Homo sapiens: one gene and its partners. The protein of the gene in region 1 interacts with the protein of each later gene in a biochemical or structural test. Each region holds a gene or a part of one and is shown on either strand. Other genes may lie near its edges.

Region 1 (5,215 bases):
AGGAAGAAACTGCTGCAAAAAGGCCAAACTGTTTTTTTGGTTTAATTACTAAAGATGAACATTTTTACTTTAGCATCAAGATTGGTAAACCGCCTCCTAAATACCTACATTTCTGTAAGTCTTGAAGGATTGTAAGCACTAATGGCATGCATGTCTGATTTATATATTACAAAATAAAAATTAATTTTCAAAGAGGTTGACTCTTAACTAGTTTGCTTAGCCAGTTAATACCATGCCTTGAGTCAGAGATCAGACAGAGTCACCTTATAGACAAGCTATTGTCATAGAGAAATCTGGTTAACAATCCATTGAAACTGATACACACATTTAGAAGATATATCAAAGACAGAGTAAAAAAACAAAATGGTAAATTCCACATCAGCTATCTCTACTTCTAGAAAAGCAATTCAAAGATGATGTTTTTCTATTAACTAATATTAGCATTACTTCATTGGTATAGGGCAATATAATCAGAACAGAAAGGAGTTATGTTTGTAGGATTTTTCTCTGTCAGCATCTATATTTATAAGACCCCATTTAGATAATTCAGTACCTTTAAAGCAATAACAATGTCATGTCCCTAAAATGCACAATTTATGTAAATAGTCAGGTTTTGCTTCTGGTATAATTCCTAGGTTTAAAACTTTTTTGTTAGGTTGAAGAACAAGCAAGCACTACAGAAAGAGTATTTCAAGACAGACAGTATCAAATTGATGCTGCAATTGTTCGAATTATGAAGATGAGAAAGACACTTAGCCACAATCTCCTTGTTTCAGAAGTGTACAACCAGTTGAAATTTCCAGTAAAGGTAGGTACTTCTGTGTTTTCCTATTGAGCGTGTTATAAATAAAAGAAAGTACATTAGATTTTCAGACACAAATCTTGCAAACATAAAGCGTCATGACCATTTAGAGAGAGAAAAGTTTTAATTTCCCATGTTGATGCATATGATTTCCAAAAAAAAAAACTTTGTTGGCATATGTGGGCAGCAGTGACAAAAGGGAAAAATAACAGAAAAGCCTGGATACCTGAAAGTTTAACTGCTAAATGAGTGTTTGAAATTTTCAAGTTTATTCACTATATTTCTTTTGAACTTCTTGGTTGGTTATTTACTTCTTTTCCTCTTGAAATACCATGGTATTTATTGAAATACCATGGTATTTGACAGATTTAGTTATTGTGGATTGAGTTAAATCTCCTGTTTAGTTAGCTTATATAAGAGATCATCTGTTAAAAACCATACAGATAACTAGTCATGATTAAGCATCTTTTTGAAAAGTGTAGTGATAGTTCTGGTAAACTGAAATTGGTCATTAAATGGAAACGTTCCATTGTGAATGACCAATAATAAAGTCACTTAATGTGATGTTGTACTGGCCTTTTTTCCAAGTTTTAGGAGGTAGATAGCCAAACCCTTGGATGATAAACATTGATAGAGTTTGAATAGACTGCTAGCTATTAGGGTTCTTATGAGCTTTGGACTTTCATAAATCACTTCACCATGCTGATCTTGTTTCCTCTTTTGTAAAACTGAGATAATAATAGTACTTACCTTGTAGGATTATTGTGAGGTTTAAGTGAGATCATGAATGTAAAAATCTTAGCACTGGACCTGGTACATAATAAGCACTCGGTAGCTCTTAGTTCTAATAAGGTAAGCATTTTCTTTTCTCCAAACCTAATATCGCACTCCTCATTACCACCCTCTCACCCTCATGCTCTGCTTAATAGTCATTTCACCTCAAGCCAGAGAGATCACTGATGCTGGGGAAATTAGGGGATCGCTGTAGTTAATATTGTGCTGATATTCTAGGTCTTTCACCATAATTAAGAGAAGTCATCTGATTTCCCAACCTTGGGATTACTGGATAAAATTTTCACTGCTGTATCAGACTACTTCCCCTCTTTTCCCCTCTTGAACAAGTGGTCATTTTACTTATCCTGAAAAACTTTCTATTAGCAAACAAGATTATATTATATTTACAGACTAGATACATAAGATATATAGTGGAATTTTGTCATCCAGGAGCTTAGAATGCAATCATGAAGATAAAGCTACAAGCTTTCTTGATTACTTTTAAATCACAGGATGCAGAAATCCAAGTCACTTAGATGCACTAAACCAGAAATATGAAGATCTAAATTATGAGGTACTTCATTTATCAAGCCATTTCATGTAGTTTTTTTTTGAGATGGAGTCTCGCTCTGTCATCCAGGCTGGAGTGCAGTGGCATGATCTTGGCTCACTGCAGCGTCTGCCTCCCGGGTTCAAGCAATTCTTTTGCCTCAGCCTCTCGAGTAGCTGGGACCACAGGTGCGCACAATCACGCCTGGCTAATTTTTGTGTTTTTAGTAGAGACGGGGTTTTACCATATTGGTCAGGCTGGTCTCGAACTCCTGACCTCATGATCTGCCCACAGCCTCCCAAAGTGCTGGGATTACAGGCATGAGCCACTGCACCTGTCCAGTATTCTTTTAAATAGTGATTTTTTTTTTTTTTGAGATGGAGTCTTCTTGCTCTGTCACCCAGGTTGGAGTGCAGTGGCGCGATCACGTTTCACTACAACCTCCACCTCCCGGGTTCAAGCAATTCTCCTGCCTCAGTCTCCCTGGTAGCTGAGACTACAGGCGCCCACCACCACACCTGGCTAATTCTTGTATTTTTAGTACAGATGGGGTTTTGCCATGTTAGCCAGTCTGGTCTCAAACTTCTGACCTCAGGTGATCCACCCATCTTAGCCTCCCAAAGTGCTGGGATTACAGGCATGAGCCACCACACCCGGTCTAAATAGTGATTTCATCAGTACGTTTTAAATCTTAATTTATAAAAATGAAGCCAACTAACTCTTGCCCAAAGTAAAGGTGTGCTTCATGAACTATCTTGACAAAACTAGTATTCTGTGTCCTTAAACTACCTTACAGTGCTCATGTGAAGTTACAATAAATGTAGTCTTTTGTATTTAACCACGCGAAGGGTAGCTGCTTCTGGCATGACCTCTTTAAAATAGAAAAGTAATAGAAAGTATTCCGTAACAATATGACAAGGATGTGACAGTTTAATGTATGTATAGTATATAGTACAGGTTGAACACCTTTAATGAGAATCCAAAATCTGAAATGCTCTAAAATTGGAAACTTTGAATGCCAACATGATGCCACAGGTGGAAAATTCCACACTTTACCTCATTTGACAGGTTGCAGTCAAAACTTTGTTTCATGCACAAAAGGTATAAAATTATCTTCAGGCTATGTAAGGTATGTATGAAACATAGATGAATTTTGTGTTTAGACTTGGGTCCCATCTCCATGGTATCTCACTATGTATATGCAAATATACCAAAATGAAAAAGTCAGGACCAGGCATGGTAGCTCACACCTGTGAGTACTGGGATTCCAGTACTTTGGGAGGCTGAGGCTGGGGGGATTACTCCAGAACAAGAGTTTAAGGTCAGCCTGGGCGACATAGCAAGACCCTGTCTATTAAAAAAATTAAAAGCTCCAAAAAAAAATCAAAAATCAAAAACACTTTTGGCGTTAAAGAATCTTCAACATACCTGGGCACGGTGGCTCATCCCTGTAATCCCAGCACTTTGGGAGGCTGAGGCAGGTGGATCACCTGAGGTCAGGAGTTCAAGACCAGCCTGGCCAATATGGTGACACCCCATCTCTACCAAAAATACAAAAATTAGCCAGGCGTGGTGGCTTGTGTCTAGTCCCAGCTACTCGGGAAGCTGAGGCAGAAGAATCACTTGAACCCAGGAGGTGGAGGTTGCAGTGAGCCAAAGTGGTGCCACTGCAGTCCAGCCTGGGTGACAGAGCGAGACTCCGTCTCAAAAAAAAAAAAAAAGAATCTTCAACGTGTATAAAACATTTTTTAACCTGGTTTATTTTCATGATACTTTTCTCTAAAAAAGAGATTTAAATAAATAAAAATTTTAAAAAAGGAGATTAAATTCATGAGCCGAAACTGTTGTCTTTTTAATGGGGTATTAACTAAATGGGCTTGAGCCAATGATAATGAACTTTACATTGAAAATTTGCCTTCTCTTACAGCCTGCTGATCTTAAGAAGAGAATAGAATCTTTAATTGACCGGGACTACATGGAAAGAGATAAAGAAAATCCAAACCAGTACAACTATATTGCATAGAATGTTGGCCTTGCAGCATTTGGTGTCATATGCAGTAGCCAGTGGATAAACTAACCTGTTGATTCAATATTATTTGACTCCTTTTTTACTACCGATGACCAAATGAAGCAGTGTAATTAATGGAAATAGTTGAGTGGACTTTTTCTCAGTGGTTAACATGCCCATTTTAAAGAGTAATACTTACCTTTAAGAAGAATGTTGTTGAACTCTTTGCATGTTATTTAGTATGATGTGCAGAAAACACTTAAGAACGTACCTGGTCTTCATGAATTCCTCTTTGGAACTGGGAAAGAGATCCCTGTGGCTATTAAAAAGGGGGGAGGGTTCTTACACACCATTAATTATGAAGCAAAAGGTTTATTTGCTTAAAATGTCATTTAAAGATACTTAAACTGCATGCAAACTTTATTTACTGTACAGAGTTCTGGATGTATTTATCAAATAGAAAAACCACCCTTGACTTGGTTGTTCACCCGTTTTGTGATTTCCCTTGAAAAGAGAAATGAATTGTCATAGCTATTGATATTTTACTAGGTGATGTTCTGTTACACTGAAAGGGATGTTTTTTAAAAAAAATTATTTGGAAACAAGTTTTCAAGTAGGGGGACAGTTGCTTACATAATATCTTGTATATTCACATCCTAAAAATTTTCATTTATGAGTATGGGATGTGTGTATATGGCTTAGCCCCAAGTTAACTGTGCTGATTAACAAGTACTTATAAAAATAGCTAAAGTAGAAAATTAATGATCAGTTGTACTAGAGGAACATCATAGAAGAGAAAAATCCAACTCTTTATATTAAAAATGAATACAATAAGAAAATTGCAAAAGAGACCAAAATGAACGTGTTTTGTAAATTGTTACAGGAGCAAAAACTTTGCAACTAGTTTTCAACATACTTTAGACTTTAAATGTTGTTTGGACAGTTTTGTCTTCAACTTGGACCAATTGTAGATTGTTACAGGCTTCCTAGGATTTAGCATTCCTATTTTCTCTACCAAAGTTTTTTTTAGAAGCATCCCAACTCTTCTCTTTGTTGATAAATAAGCCTTTCCTGTCATCTT
Region 2 (4,097 bases), on another chromosome or scaffold:
TGAATACAAGTCCAGATTTTGTATGACTTCCTGCAGTGGCTTCCATTGCATTGAAAATACAATCTAAGTGTATTACCTTCATTTACAAAGTTTGATGCTATGGCTCTTTCTTACCCCTCAAATCTGAACTTCCACCTCTCTTTTTCTAGATCACCACCCTCCAAATACGCTGGGATTCTTTTTTTTTTGTTTTGTTTTTTTGTTTTTAAGACAGAGTCTCGCTCTGTTGCCCAGGCTGGAGTGCAGGGACGGGATCTCAGCTGACTGCAACCTCTGCCTCCTGGGTTCAGGTGATTCTCATGCCTCACCCTCCCAAGTAGCTGGGATTACAGGTGCATGCCATCATGTCCGGCTAAGTTTTGTATTTTTAGTAGAGACAGAGTTCGCCATCTTGTCCAGACTGGTCTCAAACTTCAGGCCTCTAGTGATCTGTCCCCCTCGGCCTCCCAGAGTGCTGGAATTCTAGGCGTGAGCCACTGCAGACACATAAAATTGTGCTGAAGTATTTCTAATCACTTCGAGTTACAATTCTGTTAAGTTTCATTTTGCCTGCCAATATTATTCTGAAAAATTTCCCAACCAAATCTTTCTTGTACTACTGTGTCATTGCTCACAGACAATTTTTTTCCACATTGGTAGAACCCTGAACTCCATTCATACAGATAATATGAGGTACTTAACTTGTACATTTGTTTAAGTTCCTTATTGATGCTGGATATTAGATCTTTGTCAGATGCAAAGTTTCCAAAAATTGTCTCCATTCTGTAGGTTTTCTGTTGACTCTGTTGATAGTTTCTGTTGCTGTGCAGAGGCTCTTTAGTTTAGATTTTATTTGTCAATTTTTGCTTTTATTGTAGTTGCTTTTGGTGTCTTCATCATGAAATCTTTGCCCATTCCTGTGTCCTGAATGGTATTATGTAGGTTGTGTTGCAGGGTTTTTATAGTTTTTGGTTTTACATTTAAGTCTCTAATCCATCTTCAGTTGTATATGGTGTAAAGAAGGGGTCCACTTTCAATCTTTTGCATATGGCTAGCCAGATATCCCAGCACCATTTATTGAATAGGCAATCCTTCTCCCATTGCTTGTTTTGTCAGATTTGTCGAAGATCAGATAGTTGTAGGTGTGCAGCATTATTTCTGGGTTCTCTGTTCTGTTCCATTGGTCTATGTGTCTGTTTTTGTACCAGTATCATGCTGTTTTGGTTACTGTAGCCCTGTAGTGTAGTTTGAAGATGAGTAGCGAGTAGCATGATGCCTCCAGCTTTGTTCTTTTGCTTAGGATTGCTTTGGCTATTTGGGCTATTTTTTGGTTCCATATGAATTTTGAAACAGTTTTTTCTAATTCTGTGATGAATGTCAGTGGTAGTTTAATAGGAATATCATTGAAATTGTAAATTGCTTTGGGCAGTATGGGCATTTTAATGATATTGATTCTTCCTATCCGTGAGCATGGGATGTTTTTCCATTTGCTTGTGTCATCTCTGATCTCTTTGAGCAGTGTTTTATAGTTCTTCGTGTAGTGATCCTTCACCTCCATGGTTAGCTGTATTCCTACGTGTGTGTGTGTGTGTGTGTGTGTGTGTGTGTGTGTGTGGTGGGGGGCAATTGTGAATAGGTCTGCATTCCTGGTTTGGCTCTTGGCCTGACTGTTGTTGGTGTATAGGAATGTTAGTGATTTTTGCACATTGATTTTATATCCTGAGACTTTGCTAAAGTTGTTTATTAGCTTAAGGAGCTTTTGGGCTGAGACTATGGGGTTTTCTTTCTTTTTTTTTTTTAATTTTACTTTAAGTTCTGGGATACAAGTGCAGAATGTGTAGGTTTGTTATGTAGGTATACGTGTGCCATGGTGGTTTGCTGCACCTATCAACCCGTCATCTAGGTTTTAACCCCTGCATGCATTAGCTATTTCTTCTAATGTTCTCCCTCCCCTCACCCCCCCACCCCCTGACTGGCCCTGGTGTGTGGTGTTCCTCTCCCTGTGTCCATGTGTTCTCATTGTTCAACTCTGACTTATGAGTGAGAACATGCAGTGTTTGGTTTTCTGTTCCTGTGTTAGTTTGCTGAGGATGGTGGCTTACAGCTTCATCCATGTCCCTGCAAAGGAGATGATCTCATTCCTTTTTTATGACTGTATAGTATTCCATGGTGTACGTGTACCACATTTTCTTTATCCAGTCTATCATTGATGGGCATTTGGGTTGGTTCCATGTCTTTGCTATTGTACATGGTGCTGCAATAAACATATGTGTACATGTGTCTTTATAGTAGGATGACTTATATTCTTTGGGTATATACCTAGTAATGGGATTGCTTGGTTAAATGGTATTATTTCTAGTTCTAGATCCTTGAGGAATCGCCACACTGTCTTCCACAAAGGTTGAACTAATTTACATCCCACCAACAGTGTAAAGGCGTTCCTGTTTCTTCACAGCCTCACCAGCATCTATGGTTTCCTGACGTTTTAATAATCACCATTCTGACTGGTGTGAGATGGTATCTCATTGTGGTTTTGATTTGCATTTCTGTAATGATCAGTGATGGTGAGCTTTTTTCTATGTTTGTTGGCCACATAAATGTCTTCTTTTGAGAAGTGTCTGTTCATATCCTTTGCCTACTTTTTAATGGGGCTGTTTGATTTTTTCTTGTAAATTTGTTTAAGTTCCTTGTAGATTCTGGATATTAGACTTGGGCAGATGGGTAGATTGCAAACATTTTCTCCCATTCTGTAGGTTGCCTGTTCACTCTGATGATAGTTTCTTTTGCTGTGCAGAAGCTCTTTAATTATGTGACTCTGGGGTTTTCTAGATATAGGATCATGTCGTCTGCAAACAGGGGTAGTTGACTTTCTCTCTTCCTATTTGGATGTCTGGGCATTCTATGAATATTTGTGTGGTTGAGATAGTTACTGACTTTGGCCTTACAGCTTGATGATAGACTTGGTCCCTTGACTAGAATGCAATCTTCATATGAGACTGTAAAATGAATAAGTGCTTTGTAGGCTGTAAAATACTATTTAAATCTGAGGCATTATAGTAGGTCTTTTCCTCAGAAGGCTATATTCTATATTCTATAGGCTTGGCTCTCACAGTGAAATGACACATTAAACTATATAATAGAATCTTTTTTATCCTCGATATTCTTTCTAAAACTGCACCAAGCAAGATAATGGGTTATTGGATTGTTTGAAACCACACTACTGTCTGTTTGTTGTAAATGTGGAATAATATCTCTCAACATCATTATTGTATTTGAGATGTTGTTGTAAAGATATCTGTAAAGGGCTTTGGATTTTCCAGAAGAGAGAACTTGTAATGAAACTCATTTTTCTTGTTACAGTGGGGCAAGACAGTTGCTGATGTGTTACCATTACCCATCATTTAAAACTAGCAGGCATTCCTATACTACCTACTGTGCTAAAATAAGGAACTGACAGGCCCAGTTAGTTAGCTGTAGCAGTATTTTATGTTGCTGTGGCTGTGGTATCACTGTTTAATTGCAGTTACCAAATCTCTCAGCAAAGTAAGGCAACATTTATCTGAGAAAGCATTTTTTTCCATTCTGAATTAACTGAAAGTGCACTGGTTACACTTATACTCTGTGGAGAACCCTAACTTTGGTTCTTTTTTTTCTTTTTTTTTTTTTTTTGGAGACGGAGTCTCACTCTGTAGGAGTGCACTGGAGTTCAGTGGTGCCATCTCGGCTCACTGTAAACTCCGCCTCCTGGGTTCAAGCGATTCTTCTGCCTCAGCCTCCTGAGTAGCTGGGACTACAGGTGCATGCCACCATACCTGGCTAATTTTTGTATTTTTAGTAGAGACAGGGTTTCACCATATTGGCCAGGGTGGTCTCAAACTCCTGACTTCGTGATCCGCCCGCCTCGGCCTCCCAAAGTGCTGCGACTTTGGTTCTTAAGTTGACCTCCGCATCTAATAAAAGACTGTGGTTAAGTATCAGTCTTTCAGAAATTTTGAGCAAGGTTGTAGAGCGTTAAAGGACTTTAAAGGCATCTCTTAGGTCAGTGAGGAAGGACTATTTGTTTTATTATTTAAAAAAATTAACATTTAAAAACAGCACAAACAGAAACACTCTGAAGT
Region 3 (4,097 bases), on another chromosome or scaffold:
GTGCCACTGTACTCCAGCCTGGGCGACAAAGCAAGACTGTCTCAAAAACAAACAAACGAACAAACAAAACCAATGACCAGGCTGTACCTCAAACCAATTAAAGCAGAATCTTTAATTGGCTTTAGTAATGTTTAAAACTCCCCAGGTAATTCCAATAGGCATTCAAGTTTAAGAACCAGCACCTCAGATGATTATTATAAAGATTAAAAAGCTGAATAAATGTGAAAGTGCTATGCAAACTGAAATCCTACATTATCACTCTTATTTTTTCATATGCTCAACAATTGCTTCTCAATATGCTCAACAATGTGATTGCTCAACATTGCTTCTTATTATTCATTCCTTTCTTCTGACTTCATTTCCTTCTTTCTAAAGTACAACTTATGGGTTCTTTAAGTGACAGAACGTGACTGGAAAACTCAATTTCTGTGTGCAAAATAATTTCATGCTCATTCTTGAATGATAGTCTGACTAGCTGGAGAACTCTGGGTTAAAGTCACAGTCATGAGCCTCTTAATGCTTTGGCCAACAATATACTGTGTATCTGACAGTAGTCAGAGCAACAGGCTACACTAAATAGCCTAGGCATGCAGTAGGCTGTACCATCAAAGTTTGTGTAAGTACACTCCACGATGTTCAAACAATGACAAAACTGCCTAATACACATATTACAGAATGTATCCTCATCATTTTAAGTGACACATGACTGCATTTTCTCTGAGCATTTCACTAAACGCTGGCCTCAACTGTTGTGTTATTGGGGAAGTAGCTGTCAAGTCTACCTGCTAATCCTCAGTAGGTAATCTGTTCCCCGAGGTTGCCTGTAGGAGTTTGTCTTTGCTTCGTGTCCAGTAGTTTCACAGCAACTTGTACAAGTGGAAGAAGGGGGACACTGCTTGGAATTCTGGGGGGATGGTTCTTTACTCTGAGAATATAGGTCTTTCATCAACTCTCGAAAATTCTCAGCCATTATTTCTTTGAATATCGCTTCTCCTATACTCTCTCTAGTCTTTCCTGGTAAGTTCATGTATATGTATACGTACATTTGTGTGTGTGTGTGTGTGTGTGTGTGTGTGTGTGTGTGTGTGGATGTGCATACACACAAACATACTGAACCTTCTCAGTCTACCCTCCAAATGTTAATATTTCTTTCATATTCCCTCTTTGATCTTTCTGTGCCACATTCTGAGCAATTTCCTCAGTATAGTGTAGTCTGATTAAAACAGGTTAACTCTAGTCCAATTGCATGGGTCAGAATTCTGATTCCACCATTTATTAGCTGTGTGACTTTGGAGAAGGTTACTTAACCTCTCTGTGATTCAGTTTCTTCATTTGTAAAATAAAGAAAATAACAGTGCTATCCTCAAAGGATTACTGTGAGAATTAAACAATATATGTTAAGTGTTTACCACAGTGCCTGGTACTTGATGAGTAAATAATCTCTTTTTTGTTTTATTGGTTGTTCTGTTTAACCAGTCCATTGTGCGTGTTATTTTAACTTAGCAATGTTCTAAACAAAGTTTAATTTTGGTTTACAAACTGGAATAGATTTTCTATAGCTTCCAGTTTTCTTAAAGTTTTATAATAATTTTAGACTTACAGAAGAGCTGCAAAGCTAGTACAGAGTTCCTACATGCCATTCACCACCTTCTGCTATTGTGAACCTTTTACATAACCACAGTATAATAATAAAGAAATCAACTAAAATATCAACACTGGTACAATACTATTAACTAAACTACAGACTTCATTCCATTTCTCCAGTTTTTCCACTAATGTCCTTTTTCTGTCCCAGGATCTAGTATAGGATACTCTTGCTTTCCGTCTTCACGTCTTCTTAATTTCCTCCAATCTGTGACAGTTTCTTAGTCTCTCTTCCTTGACAGTTTTGAAGAGTGCTGGTCAGGTATCTTGCTGCATATTCCTCGATTTGGGTTTGTCTGATGTTTTCTCATTATAGACCGAAGTTACGGATTTGGAGGAAGAATACCTCACAGGTTATATATATGCCCTTCTCATTGCACCATATCAAGAGGCACATATCAGTCTTATCAATGTATTATTAATAGTGATGTTAACCTTGGTCATTGGGTAGAGGAGGTGCATTGTAAAGTTGCTATTTTTCCTTTTTCATACTCTACTCATCAGAAGTGAGTCAACAAGTCCAGCTCACACTCATGGAAAGTTTTAAACATTAATCACTGTATTTTTCATTTCTGGCATTGCTATTTGGTTCTTCTGTCATAGTCACAGTCTTCTCTTGTGGGTCTGATTTCTTCTAATTTTAATTATTTTCAATATACTTAATTTTGTATCTTTTCAGATTTTCACTGCATTACCTAAATCTTCTGGAGCACTAATCCTTCTGCTTGTGTCTGCTAACTAGTTCATAATGCATTGTTTCACTGTGTGTTTCTTAATTTTGGATTGTGACCTTATTACAGTGGGGCATTATGTTCAGGAATCCAATGGGAGCTAGAGTTTGAAAGTGTTCTTCCAGTGCAGCTCTGTGACTACTTCCGTCAAAAATAAAAACTGATTTGGTAAAGCTTTTTTAACTTTCTAATCCTGTGGGTTCCTGGATAACATAGGGAGTATAGACTCTAAACCTGTGGAATGTCCAGGTTGAAGGGCTTGATTATTCAGGAGAGGTTTTTGTTGTCTCTTGGTGATGACAATTTTTATTCTTGTCTATCCTTTTACTAAGGATACTGACATCTGAAGTTCTTAGCTTTAAGAAGAATCTCAGTTCAAACTCCCCACTGGGTGGACCCAAGATCTCACTTCCAGTTTTCACATGGGAGTTATAAATCCAAATCAGTAGGTTACCAGAATGAATAGTGACCCACTGAAAACAGCCATGGGATTAGTTCACAATATTTCTTCTTTAACTTAGGGCTTCCTCATTATTTCTGGCATCTGAGAATCTTTAAGTTGGATAGATTTTATCTGGCATTTCTAGGTATTTGTAACAGGATAATTTTGTTCCTTTAACCAACTAATTTGATAAAAGAAAAGTGTTTCCTGTCTTTTTTAACTGTTTACTCAGAAACAGAAAAAAAAAAATTATAAAAACACAGGTATAAATTTTGCTACCTGTTTTTCTTACCCTTTCCAATATTTCCAACAATAAATTCTGAAACCCTATTACATACACTAGAGATGTGATCAAGAACATCAAAGTCTTTCCCTTTTAATGATCTTTAGAGAAACAAAAATTAAAGAACTCAGTGCTAAGAAGCTGAGTGGAATATATATGTGAAACAGACAGATAAGATTCAGAAGGAACAGAGCCCTAAGTTAGGAATCAGGACTTTGAGATTCAAGTCCTACTCCTATGACTAAGTATCAAGTGACCTCAAAAATAAAAGGTTGTACTCAATGATCCCCAACATTCTACGATTCTGCTTAATTCATGAAGTTACACATATCGGATGTTCTTATTTATTTGCTCACTTGTCATTCAATCTGTCTAACATTGATAAGGAAGCTATTTGAATTTTTGGTCCACTTACTAAAATATCTTTCTAACATGGAAATAAGTATGATTATTACACTAAATATAAATTTTCTATGTGTCTTTCCTTTATTAATACTGTAAATGGCATTAAGACATTCATTTATAAATTTTAAATGCAAATTAAAAACAAATCTCTCCACTAACTTGGCATTTATTAATACAGAATTCACAATGTACAACTTTGTAAGAAATTAACAAGGAAAAAGCTGAACTATTTAGGGTACACTGTATACTACAAAGAAGGCAGAAATCAATTCATTTCCAATCCAGTATAATGGTCTCTGTATACTTTTTTAAAGTTTATATTTAGTTCTTTTGAAAATAATTTCCTGTACATATGAGTATGTGATTCTTAGACTTCTCACAATGTTTTATTAGAGAGAAAAGTAGACTTTTTCTCATATTTTACCTTTTTTCTGGATCTTTTTGAAGGCACAATGAAATCATTTTTCTAAATGATTTTCCATATTTTTTCAGCATTTCTTTATCTTGAACACCAGTTTCCAAAGAAGGAGGATCGTTCTGCAGTGTCAGCATTAAAACCTGCAAGAATTTTCAATATACTATAAACTTGTGA
Region 4 (4,097 bases), on another chromosome or scaffold:
ATGTTGATGAGACGAAAGAAAAATTATCCATGTTACTGGTTTCATTTCTTCCTTTTTCTTTTTTCTTTTTTTAGTTGAAGTGATGATGATGTGGTAGCAATAGGGATTGGATATAGAAATGGATAATTGGTGACATATATTATGTATTTGTGAAATGAACCTGTTTACTCTTGTTGCCTTTAGTAAAGTAAAACTTCATACGTGGAACCTGATTTTAAACATAATATCTGTATTTTTGTTCCTGTGTGTTGTGATTATCTGCAGTCAACATTATGAACATCAGTTGCTGGTATATGAGTCGCAGTGCCATTCTTGCATTACTATAAAGAAATACCTGAGACTGGGTAATTTATAAAAGAAAAGAGGTTTAATTGACTCACGGTTCTGCAGGCTTTACAGGAAGTATGGTGCTGGCATCTGCTTGGCTTCTAGAGAGTCTTACAATCGTGGAGGAAGGTGAATGGAGAGCAGGCACACCACATGGCGAAAGCAGGAGCGAGAGAGAGAAAGGGTGAGAGGAGGTGCCACACACTTTTAAATGACTGAACCCCATAAGAACTCACTCACTGTCTCAAAGACAGCACTAAGCCATGAGGGATCCGCCCCCATGATCCAAACACCTCTCACCAGGCCCCACCTCTGGCACTGAGAATTACAGTTCAACATAAGACTTAGGTGGGGACATATCCAAACTATATCACCATCATAGGCTAAAAGATGTACCAGGCCACCTGCCTCAATTACAGAGGAAGCTCTGACCTTGGGATCATTGATGTAAGGCGAGAATTGAACCTAGGAAAAGTTAGAGACTATTTTAGACAGCTGTGTGGTATGGAGAATGGTGTAAGTAAATATAGTCGGAATTGATGTCTTTTATTGAGCACTTACTATCTTCCAGGTATTGTAATGGGTACCTGACATACCTAGACATTGTAATAGGTGTCTGATAAATATTTTCAACCATACAACAACATTATGAAGGAGAATTTTTTATCCTCACTTTACAGATGAGAAAATTGGTAGACCTGAGATTTGAACCAGCTGTTAGACTCCAGAGTCAGGTTGTGAAGCAAAGTGGATTTTTGACAGGAATAGAGTGGTTTTGTGTGTGTGTGCAAGTGTGTGCACACATTTGAATTCTCTTGGGTGTAGGAAGGGCAGTGGGCAGAATGTGGGGTTGGAAGGAAGGGTTTTGTGGAGTGGGGTGGTGAAAGATGTTTGGAGTATGAGTTGGGCCCAGCTCACCGAAGTCCTGGAATTCCAGATTGAGGATAACTTGTGTTTCTTGTCTTTTCTACTTCTTCCACATTTATATAAAGGAGGGAGAAAGATATAACAGTTTTGGTTTATTTAGATTCTCTTATGGGAATTTTGGGAGTTTAATTAACAGCAGGGTGGTGAAATGACAAAAGCATAGCCTGGAGAGTTAGAAGAGACCTCATTGCTGGAATGGCTTTTGGCAAGCCCCTTTTTCTCTCCCCTCCCTTACCCTCAGTGAAAAGAGAATCAAGAGGCTAAAGTTTTCTCAGTTTTTGCTTTTTGTTTTTTTGGGGGCCCAAGAGTTTAACTTCATATTTTAAGGTGATAATGGAATGTATCATTTGTCTTCCTATATTTAATCTGAGAGAGTACAAAAAGGGGGCTATGGCTTGGTAGTGGATGGGGTGGAGGTGCAAGAGTTGAATGTTCAAGCTCCTCAGCACCTCTTGCTGGTCCTGAGAGGCCTCTTGCTGGTGAGAGGGCTGTAGCTTCTAGCTTCTACCCCTGTTCACGTTTAATAAATATAAATGTAAATAAATAGGTGTATAATACACATACTTTTCTAAACCTCTGTGCAGTCGTATTTAGATGAAAAATCCAGATTCTCAGCCACTTTATGTCATCATTTACCTTAAGCATGGCTGGGCTATTCAGATGCTAAGCAATTCAAGCATGTCTATATTGGAGGGCCATTTAGAGCTTGAGGCCCTGCTCTGGCTGTCTCTCAGCACAAAATGCTGGTTTTGGGGACCATTCTATATGGCTATGACTGTGAACAGTGCATATGCACATGTATGTATACAGGTATGACCTGCTGTTCCTGACACTGCATGTGAATGTGAGGGGCTCTGCTTCTGCCAGCCCCTCTGCCCTGCAGACCTACTCAGAACTGGATGCCCAACAAGCTTTAGAAGAGAAAGTAAAGCTTTCTAACTGTGAACAGGGAGGCCAGCTTGTTTTCAGGGTTCAGAGTAGCAGCACAGAGGATCCAGCCCAAGCACAGACACCTGATATTGTAGCACCTGCTCTTTGGATCTGTTCTTTGGATCTGATACGTGTCCTAAATAAAATGTTTCAGTAAAGGGAGCTTTTTTTCTTTCTTTCTTTTTGTCAGAATGGTATAACTTGGAGAGTTACAATATCTTTTCATGGTCATTTTCATACTAACCTTTAATAGGAAAGAAGGAACTAATGTAAATCCTGATATTTTGTGAAAATACTTCCAGTGGTACTTATATATGAAATTATTAATAAACTTTCAGCTTACATTTTTATTGCCTAATATATATGCAAACATACTTTACTTCAAGTTGAGGCTGCGCGTAGTGGCCCACACCTTTAATCCCAACATTTTGGGAGGCTGAGGCAGGAGGATCACTTGAACCCAGGAGTTCAAGACCAGCCTGGGAAACATAGAAAGACCCTGTCTCTACAAGAAAAAAAAAAAGAAAAATTAGCTGTGCATGATGGTGCACACTAGTAGTCCCAGCTACCATGCAGGCTCAGGCAGATCACTTGAGCCTGGGAGTCTGAGGCTGCAGTGAACCATGATTGCACCACTGCACTTCAGCCTGGGCAACGTAGTGAGATCCTGTCTCAAAAAAAGGAAAAGAAAAAATAAATACTAATGTTGGGATGCTTTTCTATCATTTTCTTGCCATGAGCTTACTTAATTGTACCAGTAATTCTAGGGAAGAGAGGGGAAAGTGAACATTTCATTTGAGACTTATCTTTCTATTAAGTTCAAGTTCACTGCTGGCAGGATTTTATAACTACTGAAGTACTTTTTGTTTTACCTTAGAATTCACATGAAAATTTCATGAACTTTAACATTTGGTTGGGAATTTAACTTTATTGTCAGACTATTTCTAGGAGGTCACTAATTGCATGTTTTTAAAAAACTTTAGTGTCAAATTAATTGAGATAGTATTTAATTATATCAAAACATTTGTTTATTTTCTGAGTTTGTTTTTTTACAATATTGGAAATAAATGACGCTGACATTTTTCCTTTTTCTTTTCAAGATTTTCAGCTGAACTCTCATCTCTCAACACTGGCAAATATTCATAAGATCTACCACACCCTTAATAAGCTGGTAAGTCATTCTTTTAAAGACAAAATTACCAACTGTTTGAAGTAGTCATTTTGTATAAGTGTATTTGATAAAAATTTAGATTCTAGATATTAGGATATCAGTTGTTTATGAAAATGCTAACGGTATGTGATTTCTTCGTAATAACGAACATATTTCTTTCAGAACCTAACAGAAGACATTGGCCAAGACGATCACCAAACAGGTATCTGTAAATGCTAACACTACTTAATTTTAAATAGCTTCTTAATATTAGGAAAGAGAAATACTAGCTATGAATGCGCTATGTTGTCATAATGTACTCCATTAACAAATTGTTCCTTGGCTGAGGTTGTTTTTCAGGGAGTAATGAAGGCAGCCATGTTATAGCTTCTTCCCAGTAGGAAATCTCTTCTGGAAGCACTTTTTAATGCCTTTAAAGAGGCTCGGGATTCTCATAGTTTCAAGATACCTTGTTTTCTCTACTGCAGTATTTTCATTTATATTAAAAAGGTGCTACAGTAATGCAATTTGAAAGGTATTCCACAAATATTTGAGAAATTCAGCTGAAAAATGATTTAATATGGTGTGTGTGTATGTGTTCATAGTTACTGAAGATTTAGAAATCAGAAAATTGAAGCTTGATTAGTATAAGTTATCCTCTAACCCTGTGGTTCTCAGAGTTTAGCTGGCATTATGATCACCTGAGGGAAGGCCTTGTTTAAAGTACAGATGTTAGGTTCCACCCCAGAGTTTCTGGTTCTGT

The links. Proteins that work in one complex are often made in the same cells at the same time.
Region 2: of the proteins of CUL4B (region 1) and ST7, one has a biochemical effect on the other in vitro, tested with the Homo sapiens proteins (one study listed by BioGRID).
Region 3: the proteins of CUL4B (region 1) and OXSR1 interact in a test that uses a peptide from one of them, tested with the Homo sapiens proteins (one study listed by BioGRID).
Region 4: the proteins of CUL4B (region 1) and DCUN1D4 form a complex in vitro, tested with the Homo sapiens proteins (one study listed by BioGRID).

The regions. Positions count from the first base shown.
Region 1 is NC_000023.11:120,525,695-120,530,909, reverse strand, and holds part of CUL4B (cullin-4B), read left to right. Parts: intron 1-655; coding exon 656-808; intron 809-4,053; coding exon 4,054-4,149; 3' UTR 4,150-5,215.
Region 2 is NC_000007.14:116,960,001-116,964,097, forward strand, and holds part of ST7 (suppressor of tumorigenicity 7 protein), read left to right. Parts: intron 1-4,097. UniProt on the Homo sapiens protein: May act as a tumor suppressor.
Region 3 is NC_000003.12:38,224,537-38,228,633, reverse strand, and holds part of OXSR1 (serine/threonine-protein kinase OSR1), read right to left. Parts: intron 4,064-4,097; coding exon 3,930-4,063; intron 1-3,929. UniProt on the Homo sapiens protein: Effector serine/threonine-protein kinase component of the WNK-SPAK/OSR1 kinase cascade, which is involved in various processes, such as ion transport, response to hypertonic stress and blood pressure.
Region 4 is NC_000004.12:51,860,153-51,864,249, forward strand, and holds part of DCUN1D4 (DCN1-like protein 4), read left to right. Parts: exon of another isoform or gene 1-480; coding exon of another isoform or gene 481-511; intron 512-1,557; exon of another isoform or gene 1,558-1,581; intron 1,582-3,284; coding exon 3,285-3,355; intron 3,356-3,517; coding exon 3,518-3,557; intron 3,558-4,097. UniProt on the Homo sapiens protein: Contributes to the neddylation of all cullins by transferring NEDD8 from N-terminally acetylated NEDD8-conjugating E2s enzyme to different cullin C-terminal domain-RBX complexes which are necessary for the activation of cullin-RING E3 ubiquitin ligases (CRLs).